2 separate regions of the Homo sapiens genome follow, and region 1 is linked to region 2. The links come from fine-mapping of genetic effects on gene expression. A gene starts in region 2. The other region holds a variant in brackets. All regions are shown on one strand. Distances are between the middles of the regions. Region 1 overlaps LOC105371069 (a long non-coding RNA gene). Region 2 holds the start of LINC02152 (long intergenic non-protein coding RNA 2152).

Region 1 (5,388 bases), 210 kb after region 2:
TTTTATTTTTTCCCAAAGTTGTCTCTTCTGAAGGGAAGTTGTCCCTACCACTTAAAAGAGTGAAAAGGGACAGTACCAATAATTATGATGCCCAAAGTAGAAGAGTGCATTTCTAGAAAGCAGGGATTGAGGCAAGGATTACAGTAATGATACTCCGAGAGCTGAAAGCCCAGGACAATAAGGGTTGTGGGGGAAAATGGAGGGAAGACAGGGAAAGATAAGAGGTAATGCTATGCATTGCATTTCAGTGCTGAGCACTACTTTATAAGTGCTGCACAGAGGCAAATCAGGTATGCTGAGCAAGTCTGGTGGCCCAGCAGAAAGGATGTTCACAGAGAGTGTTGCAAAAAAGATGTACACTTAGGAGAAGGGTCTATAAAAGAGAAAAGAGGAGGAATCTATTCCTCTAGCTCCTTCTATCTCCTATTTCCCTTTGGTCAAGTTTCACTCCATGAAGGACCGATCTTCCACACTTCAAGGTTATATCATCTGCCCTTGAACTTCTCTCAGGTAGTTGGATCCCATACCTCACAGTGTTGTAGTCCATTCAAGATCAGAAGTGGAGGGCTGACTCAACATGGTTCAGCGTACTGGAAGTGAGGATCATCCAGGCCCAGGGCTTCAACCTTGACCCCAGCCAACTCAGGGAAACTAGCAAGGGCACCAGCAAAGATGGCAGCCAAGTGGTCCAGAATGTGGGTGGTAATTTTCCAGGGAAGGAGGCTGTAGAGAGAAATCCAAGAAGGCTCATGTTTTGTGCCTGATACTAGTATCAAGGCTGGGAAATATACCAGGGGTCTACCAAACTGAACACCAAAGAGCATTTATCTTCTTTCTTTGTCTGTGATCTAACCACTTGGCTTCAACTGTTGGTGAATTCACAGAGACAGTTTTTATGTCAAGAATTTGCTGTAAATACTCAATATTTTTTACTTTTAAAGGTTGTGTGAGAGCTGTAGTAATATGGAGTAAAAAGGGAGTTAGAGACTTCATTAACTGACAGTTTCCTTTCTGGCACAGGTGCTAATCTAAAAAAAGAAAAATAAATACCCTGACTAACTGGTTTGAGGAAATGCATAATAATTTGTTTTGTAAAGCAAAAAGTAAGCAATGAAATGATATGTATATATATATTGTTCACCTGAATTATTTACTTATTTTTTTATTTTTTTGCTTAACAAGCAGAGAGGGAAGAAAGAAAAATAGCATCTGCCCAACCCAAGCTTTTTATTATATTTTTTAATGGTGAATCTTGCTAGAACCATAATGAAGCTCTGGAAGAAATAAAAACTTATGATCAGAACAAGCATTATAGACATTTATGTAAAATTGAAAGTGAATAGTATTTTCCCATCTGTTACTAATTCATAACCGGATTCTCTCTGGTATTGTGACTGAAGTACATTTTTATAATTCATTTCTTGGCTTAACTGTTGGGGAGTTCTCGACTTTGTTAATTTCACAACATCAGATGTTCATGAGGAAGTTACCATTATGACTCACAGTCAACATGTTATCAATTCCAAGAGGGAAGGATGTTAGCCAGATAAAGTGGTGAATCGGAGGTTTTAAAATAGAGCTTTATTTCTAAACACCCTATGTTCCAGGAAACTATTGGGGAAACTAGGAAACGGCTCTGGGGCTGGTTTTGAGGATCCCATATGCACAATCACAGCACACCAGGCCATCCCGTGATCAAACAGCCCTCTCAATCCCTGTGTGTCCCACGATGCCAAAACCCATTAGCTACTCATTAGCAAAGGTGAATGAACATTTGACAGAACAGAAGCAATCTGCCTGGGAAGTGGGGAGACACAGGAAAGGAGAGAAAGAGAGAGAGATACAAGAGAGAGAGAAAGGGAGAAGGTGGGGGGAAGAGAGAGAGGGAGAGAGACTGAAAGGATGGTGGAGGGAATTCTAAGCTTAGACAGTCCCACACTTTGGCATTCTAATCTAGAACAACTTCATAACTAAGAGTAAAGGAAAATCACTATTTCTTAATAACAACAACCACAAGCAAAGATTTCCATAAGCCCAAAAGTTTAAAAGCAGAATGTTATTTTAAGCAATCTGCTGTTCGGCTAACATTTGTGAGACACGTAAAGGAAGGTAAAATTAGACTGAACCTAATCAAGATTTATTGTATTTTTGCTCAGTCCATTGAGTTTTTAGTACAGTAAATGTTCTTTTTGTTTTTTTCCCATCATAATTTCACTTTCCAGGTTAATTTCCGAATCTTTGCTTATATGTTGCTAAGTAGAAGCTACAATATTTTTACCATGGAAATATTTGTTTGGTTATTTGATACACAAACATAGCCTGAAACAACAAATATAAAA[C/G]AAGACATATGCACGTATGATATTTCCCAGAACATGAATCTTGTCATATTGAAGTGAACTGAATTCATTATTTTTGGATGCTCTACTCTCTTTCCTCTAGTTATTACTGAGCCAAAAAAGGTTTAGTTGGTGTAAGAAAATTGGTACAACAGTTCAGAAAAGCATAGTTATTCCCAATGCAGAAACTTTAGAAAAGCATGATTTCAAAATGAGTCAAGTTTAAATTGTCTGACATAGTTACTCCAAACGCAAAAACTCATCCTAAGGAAATAATCCTCCTTTGAAGGAAATATTTTTCGCTCAGAATTATTGACTACGAAGTTATTAACAATGGTGAAAACTTCAAAACCATTTCAGTGAATCACCATGATTATGAAAAATGAGGGAAACTCATTCGTTAGGCCAAACTGTCACCATTTATTTTTAAATTTATTTATTTATTATTTTTTGAGATGGAGTCTCGCTCTGTCACCCAGGCTGGAGTGTAGTGGTACGATATTGGTTCACTGCAACCTCCGCCTCCTGGGTTCAAGCGATCCTCCTGCCTCAGCCTCCCAAGTAGCTGGGACTACAGGTGCCCACCACCATGTCCAGCTAATTTTTTGTATTTTTAGTAGAGACAGGGTTTCACCACGTTAGCCAGGATGGTCTCGATCTCCTGACCTCATGATCTGCCCACGAGGCCTTGTGCTGGGATTACAGGCGTGAGCCACCAAGCCTGGCCTTAAAATTTATTTTTATGAGTATTGTGTAGTTTCAGGGGAAGATATCTCAGAGAAAGATTAGTATGGCTAGTCAGATGAGGATACCGTAAAATTGGTCTTTTGCCAGCAGAGTGCTCTCTGGTTATGAAAACGGAAATTGGAAAGAAAACAAGCAAACAAATAAATCAAACCAAAAAAAGAAAAAAAAAATTCTTCTTTACAGTTTTCAGACCTGGTCCTATTTTTTCTGAGCTCAACTTTTTCAGGCTATTTAAACAAAATACAGTAATAATAAAAATATTAAGAGTAGCAACAAAAGTTTTCTTAAAGTACTCTACAATAAACCTATGATGTCTCTACTATTCTCAGTTTGCAGGTGAGAACACTAAAGCCTAGAAATATTCAATCACACTTCTGAGTTCTCACAGTTATTAAGTGGTTGGATAAAGCATTTGAATTCAGGTTGGTTTGACACCAGATCTGTGTGCTTGTGCCAGCAGTATTTAATATGCTCCTTAAGGTTAAAGTTAGAGAAGGGACGATTACAAAATATTAAGAAAGATGATCCACAAGTGTGAAAACCATGAAAAAATGAAAATAGAAATTAAGGACACTATGAGTTCTGAGATAATCAAATACTCTTTGGAAAAGGAAAAATTGATGAAAAACTTTAATAAGATCTTCTATATTCAGCATCCTTTATTAGGGTTTGCAACATTATCTCCAATGACAGCAATGGCAACAAAAACATAGAAATAATAAAAATGTCCATCCATAGGGGATGGATGGACTCAGTGTTGTTTCATCAACCTGATAGGAAATTATGCAGATATTAAAAATTATTATTATAAAACTGAGTGGAAATACAAAAAATGTTTTTGATCAACTATGAAATGAATAAAGCAGAACATAAAATGACGTGGGCAATATTAATGCCATCTTCTAAAAATGTGGGTCTATTCTCAGGGACTGGGGTAAGGCATTTAGAAGTGAAAATAATTGTGTTTTGGATAATATTTCTGTATTACAATATAATTGGGCTATTATATCTTTCTTCCAATAATAGACATAAACACACACATCTTTTAGGTATCATGAGTTTCATATCTTTGCTCATTTTAATATGTAGAGCTCAACAGGATAAAAGAACAAATTCTATGCATCCATGCAAATGGAATGGAATAATGAACCCATTGTATCCATTATACAGCCTCAAAAATTATTAACTTTTTTCTGCATAAGGCATTTTTATTATTGCAAAACTAATATGAAGTTTGGGAAAAAATAATCCTGGAGATCTTCTTCAGACCTGGGGAAAAGTGTTGTGTTAGAAGTTGAAAATCTACTGACTGATTCGACTACAAGTTGTCACTCATCTTGGCCCTCCATTTGAGCCAAGAACTGCAGCCATCTCTATTTAATAGGTAGGTGTTAAGGGTTGAGTTAAAAAAAAATAGAAGAGTGAGAAGAGAAAAACACTAGAAATCTGTGCCTGGTTGTCAGAGGGAGGTAATTAAGTGTAACATGAATCAGGGAAAATGATGTCCACTACCAGGCCCTTGAGGCCTCCCAGAGGCTGAACCAAGATGACAGGTTAAAACCATGAGTGAAGTTAAACATCACCGAAGGGTACAACTACCTCAACACCTGGTGAGTAAATATGATTCAGACACATGCACAGGTAGAGAGTGGTTTAGACTAAGGGAAGATATTTTAAGGACTATAACTAAGTACCCCTGTGAAAGAAATTGGGAGTTCATTCATTAATTGATCTGTTTATCCATCTATCCACCTGTTCATCCATCCACCCAACCATCTACCCATCCATCCATCCATCTGGCCAGTCAGCCAATAAATTATAATTTTGCAGAAAATGAAAGACCTTCAGAATGTCTGGAACATGTAGTACAGGGTTAGTGTAGAAAGAGTCTTAAGAAGAGGCTTTGTCCAAAAGTTTAGACTTTACCCTGAGCCTGATGGAAAACAAACTGAAAAGTTTTGAGCAGCCAAGTGATAAGATAAGATCTGCCTTTTAGAAGCAAGTGGCTAGTAATTAGCATATGGTCACCAAAGGGCTGCAGACTTTAATTTCCCAGAGAGGCAAATAGAAAAGGGGAGTGTCTGAGTTGTCTGACCAAGCCTGGAAAGAAACATTCTGGCAGATTTTCTGTCAGTGGGGCTGCAGGGCCTCCAATTATTCCAGGAAACCACGCCTTTCTTTTTTAATCATAAATAACCATCATCTATCAATCAGGCATTTAATCTAAAAGGTTCAGTTGAGTTGAGCCACTATTTTCCATAGTCACTTTTAACTACTATTTTAGATTCACATCAAACTTGTCGCT
Region 2 (5,388 bases):
GAACAAATGCTGAGTAAAACTGCTAAAGGGATGAAGGATGAGTGCCCCTGAGGAAGGGGAGGTTGAGATATGCCCTCAGCTTGTTCCTGCCTTGAAATGTGTCCTCTAGAACATCAGGCATCAGCAACATAGAGGTACTTGTAGTTCCCCAAATAAGCCATGCTGTTTTGTGCCCGTCTGTCTTAGAATATTTTGTTTCTACCACCTGCATACTCTTACCTGGGCTCCCACTCCACTGCTCAACCATTGCCTTGGGAACTCCCTTCCATTATTTAAAAAAAGCCATCTCCAGCATGAAGAGGCCTTTTCTGGAAATCTCCCTAAAATCTGAACACTCTTTTCTACATACCCCTATTGCACTTAGCATGTACTTCCATTGTTTAGGGAAAATTTAAAAGTCTTTCTATGTATTGGTTTCCTCATCTGATAAAAGAAATGATGTCTTAGTCAGTTTGGGCTGCTATCATAGAATACCATAGACTGGGGCACTTAAACAGTGAACATCTATTTCTTACAGTTCTGGAGGCTGGAAAGTCTGAGATCAGGGCACCAATATGGCTGGATTCTGATAAAGGCTGTCTTCCTGGTTGCCACACAGCCGCTTTCTTGCTGCGTGCTCATACGGCGGAGGGAGAGAGAGAGAGAGAGAAACAGAGAGAGAGAGAGAGAGAAACTGCATGCTCCAGTCCCTTTATACCTTTCTAAGGGCACCAATCCCAGTATGGGGTTTTCACCCTCATGACCTCACCCTACCCCAATTATGTCCCAAGGCCCCGCCTCCAAATATCATCACATTGGGGATTAAGACTTCCACATATACATTTTAGGGGGACACAAATTTTCAGTCCGTAGCAAATTATAAAGTGTTTGTTTCTAGTCTTGAGGAGTAAATGGGGTTAATGCATTCATATCTCTTAGGAGAGAGAGCACTTGATATACATGAAGCATTCAATGCATGTTGTTGTTGATGCTGGTGGTTGCAGCATGCACCCCCCTGTAGCGCACATACCTGATTGCTGTTTTTTCTTCTCCAATGTGCTATGGGAATTTTGCAAGTAAAGACCATATCTTGCCCATCACTGACTCCCCAGCTCCCAGATGAGGCACAAAAATAGTGCTCAGATAGTTTGCTGAGGACTGAGTGAGTAAAGATGACAGCTTTCCTTTTGGAAGAATGGCACCAGCCACCCTTTATATCTCTGGAAAAAGCAAAGAGGAAGAGGAAGACGCAGTGGGAAGCTTGCAGATTACACAGTAGGAAGTGATTCCAAGACCTTCCGACCCCCTCCCCGAAACAACAGCACCAACGTACACTAATAAACATCTTTGCTAAGGTCATCTCTCTGCATGTTTTGGAGTGGATTGAAAATTAGGAGAAGAAAAACCTGTAAATCACGGAATCCAGGGTCTAGTCCTTCTTTTTCCATAGACTCTATAAATGGCTTTGGGTGAGCTTTCGCTTCTTAGTTCATAAAATTCAGGAAGATGAGATGAGTGATATCTCAGGTTCTCAGCATCTCAGACATTTAAAAATAAATAAAATACAGAATAAAAATTAGACACATTGTGGTTCTAAGGACTTCATAATCTTCCTTGAAACCCATAGATGGGATCGGACAATCATGAAAGGTTGCAATTAATTTCCACAATGACATGACTTACCTTGGGACTGGGGGCTTCATAGACCCAAGACAAGTGTGGAGAGTAGGGCATGGATCCAGGGATCCTTGGTGTCTGGCCTCATCCTGTTACCCGAGAATGATGAGCCCTTTGGCAAGCTATTGAAATGCCCTAGGCCTCAATGTTCTCATCTGTAAAATAAGGAGATAGAACCTACTTTATAGGGTAGTTATAAGAGTCAGGTATGGACGTGGTACATGGTAAGTCCCCACTCCTCCACTATGGCTATTAATGGAGAGAAGAGTCCCTGTTGATTACAGTCATCAGGGGGTGGAATTTGAGATGGAGCTTGAAAGATGAATACTAATCAACTGGACACAGAGAGGTGAGGAACGAGATGTATCCAAGCCTAGTAAATGACGATGATGTGAGGGTAGTGGTGGTTTAAATGTGTATCATGCATCATTTGATTCTCAAATCAACTGTATGAAGCCAGTGCTATGATTTGTCCCTTTTTAAACGTGAGACAACATGGTTCAAAGAAGTTAAGTAACTTACCCAACATCACACAGCTAGTATGTGGCTGAGCTGAGATTGGAATCCGTGTAATCCTGCTGCAGAGCTCATGTTCTTAACCGCTATGTTCTTCTATGTTTATAAGAGTCTGGGAAGAGCTTTGACTATCAGGCTAACATCTTTGCACAGTTAGCTGGCATGATTTGGTGGCCTTTGAGGAAGAGCAGAGGTCGGATGTGGTGCCTCACACCTGTAATCCCAGCACTTTGGGAGGCGAGGCGGCTGAATCACTTGAGGTCAGGAGTTTGAGACCAGCCTGACCAACATGTTGAAACCCTGTCTCCACTGAAAATGCAAGATTAGCTAGGCGTGGTGGCACACTCTTGTAATCCCAGCTACTTGGGAGGCTGAGGCAGGAAAATCACTTGAACCCGTGAGGCAGAGGTTGCCGTGAGCCAAGATCGCACCACTATGCTCCAGCCTGGGCAACAAGAGCGAAACTCCATGTAAAAACAAAACAAAACAAAACAAAACAAAACAAAACAAAACAAAACAGAGATCGTCTAGAGCCAGGCTCCAGTCCCCTTGCTGCGGAGGAGGAAGGGCATCAGCCCTCTCTACTTTGAGAAGCCTCCACAATGCCCAGGTTGCCTGATGGCTGAGTCACAGCTCTCATGATCCTGGCTGGCAAATTGGAGACACCCTTAATTGGATACTGAACAAACTCTGCCTGCTGCACAACGGCTCCAACAGAAGAGTTATAGCTGTTTACTGTAACACACAGACAGTCCTATTAACAAGAATGATGGGAGGCTGCTCCATGGCATTACTCTTAGCAAAAGACTTGAAAAATATGCTTTGTAAATGAAGGCACTCCAACAGAGAAAACATCTAACACTCCCTCTCCCCACCCCCACCCACCCCACCTCTTCCTGGGGAGACTTTGCATGTGGAATCCTTTATACATTGTTCAAAGTTCCATATTCTGACGACGTTCATCAATAGTGGTGCCTATGGCAGGGAGAAGCTTGTATCAACTGACAAATGTAGACAAGGCAGGCTGCTTAACCCAGGAACAGTGGGTCACAGCACAAACAGGGAAATTGATGGTGCCAGCCATATTTCTGCGGGAATGGAGGCGTAAATGAACACCATATGTCACAGCTTATCACGTACGGTAGGAGGGAACTGTGAATGGCGCAGCGTGGCCTACTTAGGAATGCTGATGGATCATTCGCAGCCAGCTTTTGTTCCAGACTGGGGTTTGTCTTGTCTACAGACTTTGGGGCATCTTCAGGGTGACAGCCATAGTGTGCTTGCCTCCTCAGCTCCAGGGATTGGCAGTGGGCTCTGCTGAGTGGAGAGGGACAGAGCTGTCCAAGTCATAACCACTGGTTACAGGGCTGAATGTACCATTGCACCCGCTAGGCTCATGGATCTTCGTAGGAATACAGATTATGCAATTCCTAAGAGGAAAGAGGATGCCAGGGCTTTGGCATCAGTTATAATAGGTACCAGTCTCTCATTTATTAGCTTGTGGGGACAAAGTAGTGACCTGAGTCTCCAATACCTCACCTAGGAAGTGGGAACGTAACAGTACCTCCCTCACAAGATCAAAATCAGGATTGACTGAGTTAATATGCAGGGAGCTTTTCAAAGAAAGTATGGCAGCCAACACACACCCAATAAATGCTAACTGGAGTGCAGTGGCATGATATTGGCTCACTGCAACCTTTGCCTCCTGGGTTCAGGGGTTCTCGTGCCTCAGCCTCCTAAGTAGCTGGAATTACAGGCATGCACCACCACACCTGGCAAATTTTTGTAGTGTAGGATTTTGCCACATTGGCCAGGCTGGTCTTGAACTCCTGGCCTCAAGCAATCTTCCCACCTCGGTCTCCTAAAATGCTGGGATTACAGGCATGAGCCACTGCACCCATCTCAAGAATGGAATGTTTAAAATGCTTACTTTGGAGTCCCAGTTCTGGTAACAAGTTAGTTATTCATGGGATCTTGGCAAGTCACATGATCCCTTAGACTTAGGTTCCCCTTCTGTCAAATGGGGAAATTAATAGATAATATCCATAAAGAGCAGGATAGAGTATCCTCACCATAGAAAGCCATTGGAGACAGGTGGTCTTTGATATTTTCTGAATGAAGAGGGACAGCCTGGGGCAGAGACCTCCACATTGTCTGCAGCTCTCAACATCCATGATGCCATGGGGAGGAATAATATTAATTTTCTGGGGAATTATGTTAGCTCTCTCTGGATTGGTCAGAGATGAGTCTAACCTTCCTCTCAAGAGAGAGGAAATGGAGAAGATAATGCTAAAATAAAATAAAAATAAAGTGTATTGAGTATTTCCTGTGCATTAGGCACCTTTGAGCATCTCATTTAAAACTCACAACAACCCTGTTAGTTGTATTATTATCCCTATTTTGCTGACTGCCATAGACACCAAAAGCTCTTGAGCACAAAAAGGAGAGGAGACTTGGCAGGGGATTCTGAATCCATGGCAAAGTCACCATGGAGGGCCCACGTCGCCCATCCCCGCTTCCACCCCTATTGGAGAGGCATCAGGAAGCCTCTCTGGGAAACTTTTTCCTTTTATATCAGCTAGTTCAGAATGGCCATACTTTTATTTATTTTTATTTTTGATTTTTGTGGATACATAGTAGGTGCATATATTTATGGGGTATATGAGACGCTCTGATACAGGCATGCAATGTGTAATACTCGCATCATGGAAAATGCGGTATCTATCCCCTCAAGCATTCGTCCCTCCTGTTAACAATCCAGTTATACTCTTTTAGTTATGTTAGAATGTACAATTAAGTTACGATTTACTATAGTCCCCATATTGTGCTATCAAATACTAGGTCTTAATTCATTCTTTCTAACTATCTATTTTGTACCCATTAACCATCCCCATCTCCTCCCCACCCCCTCACTACCCTTCCCAGCTTCTGGTACTCATCCTTCTACCCTCTATCTCCATGACAGAAGGCCATTTTCAAGCAAGGCTGGACAAGTTCATTCTGTTCCCAGCCAGACACCCATGCAGCAATAAAACCGCCCAAGTTTCTGATGAGGAAAATTGGCCTTAGTCTTTTTCAATGAGCTCACATCTAGAAAGAGCTACAGCAGCCGAGAAAGGCTGTAACAGCATCAGGGGTGGGGCTGGGTGAGTCAGCTCAGGGGTTTTCCTGTCAGGAGCCTGTGCTGGGGAAGATGGAGGGAACGGACACACACAC

The links. PIP is the estimated chance that this variant, and not a neighbour inherited with it, causes the effect. A credible set is the group of variants that fine-mapping cannot tell apart.
Region 1: its variant is the best candidate, but not a certain one, in a credible set for the expression of LINC02152 in thyroid (GTEx, PIP 0.56).

The regions. Positions count from the first base shown.
Region 1 is chr16:8,084,283-8,089,670 of GRCh38, reverse strand. The region is part of intron 1 of LOC105371069 (a long non-coding RNA gene); the gene reads left to right. Among named protein-coding and RNA genes, the nearest start is that of LINC02152, 210 kb to the left of the region's middle. The variant C/G (reference allele first, on the strand shown) is at 2,340.
Region 2 is chr16:8,293,551-8,298,938 of GRCh38, reverse strand. LINC02152 (long intergenic non-protein coding RNA 2152) reads right to left here and starts at 2,508. Exons shown (of 2, transcript NR_184340.1): 1 at 2,179-2,508; 2 at 1-1,811.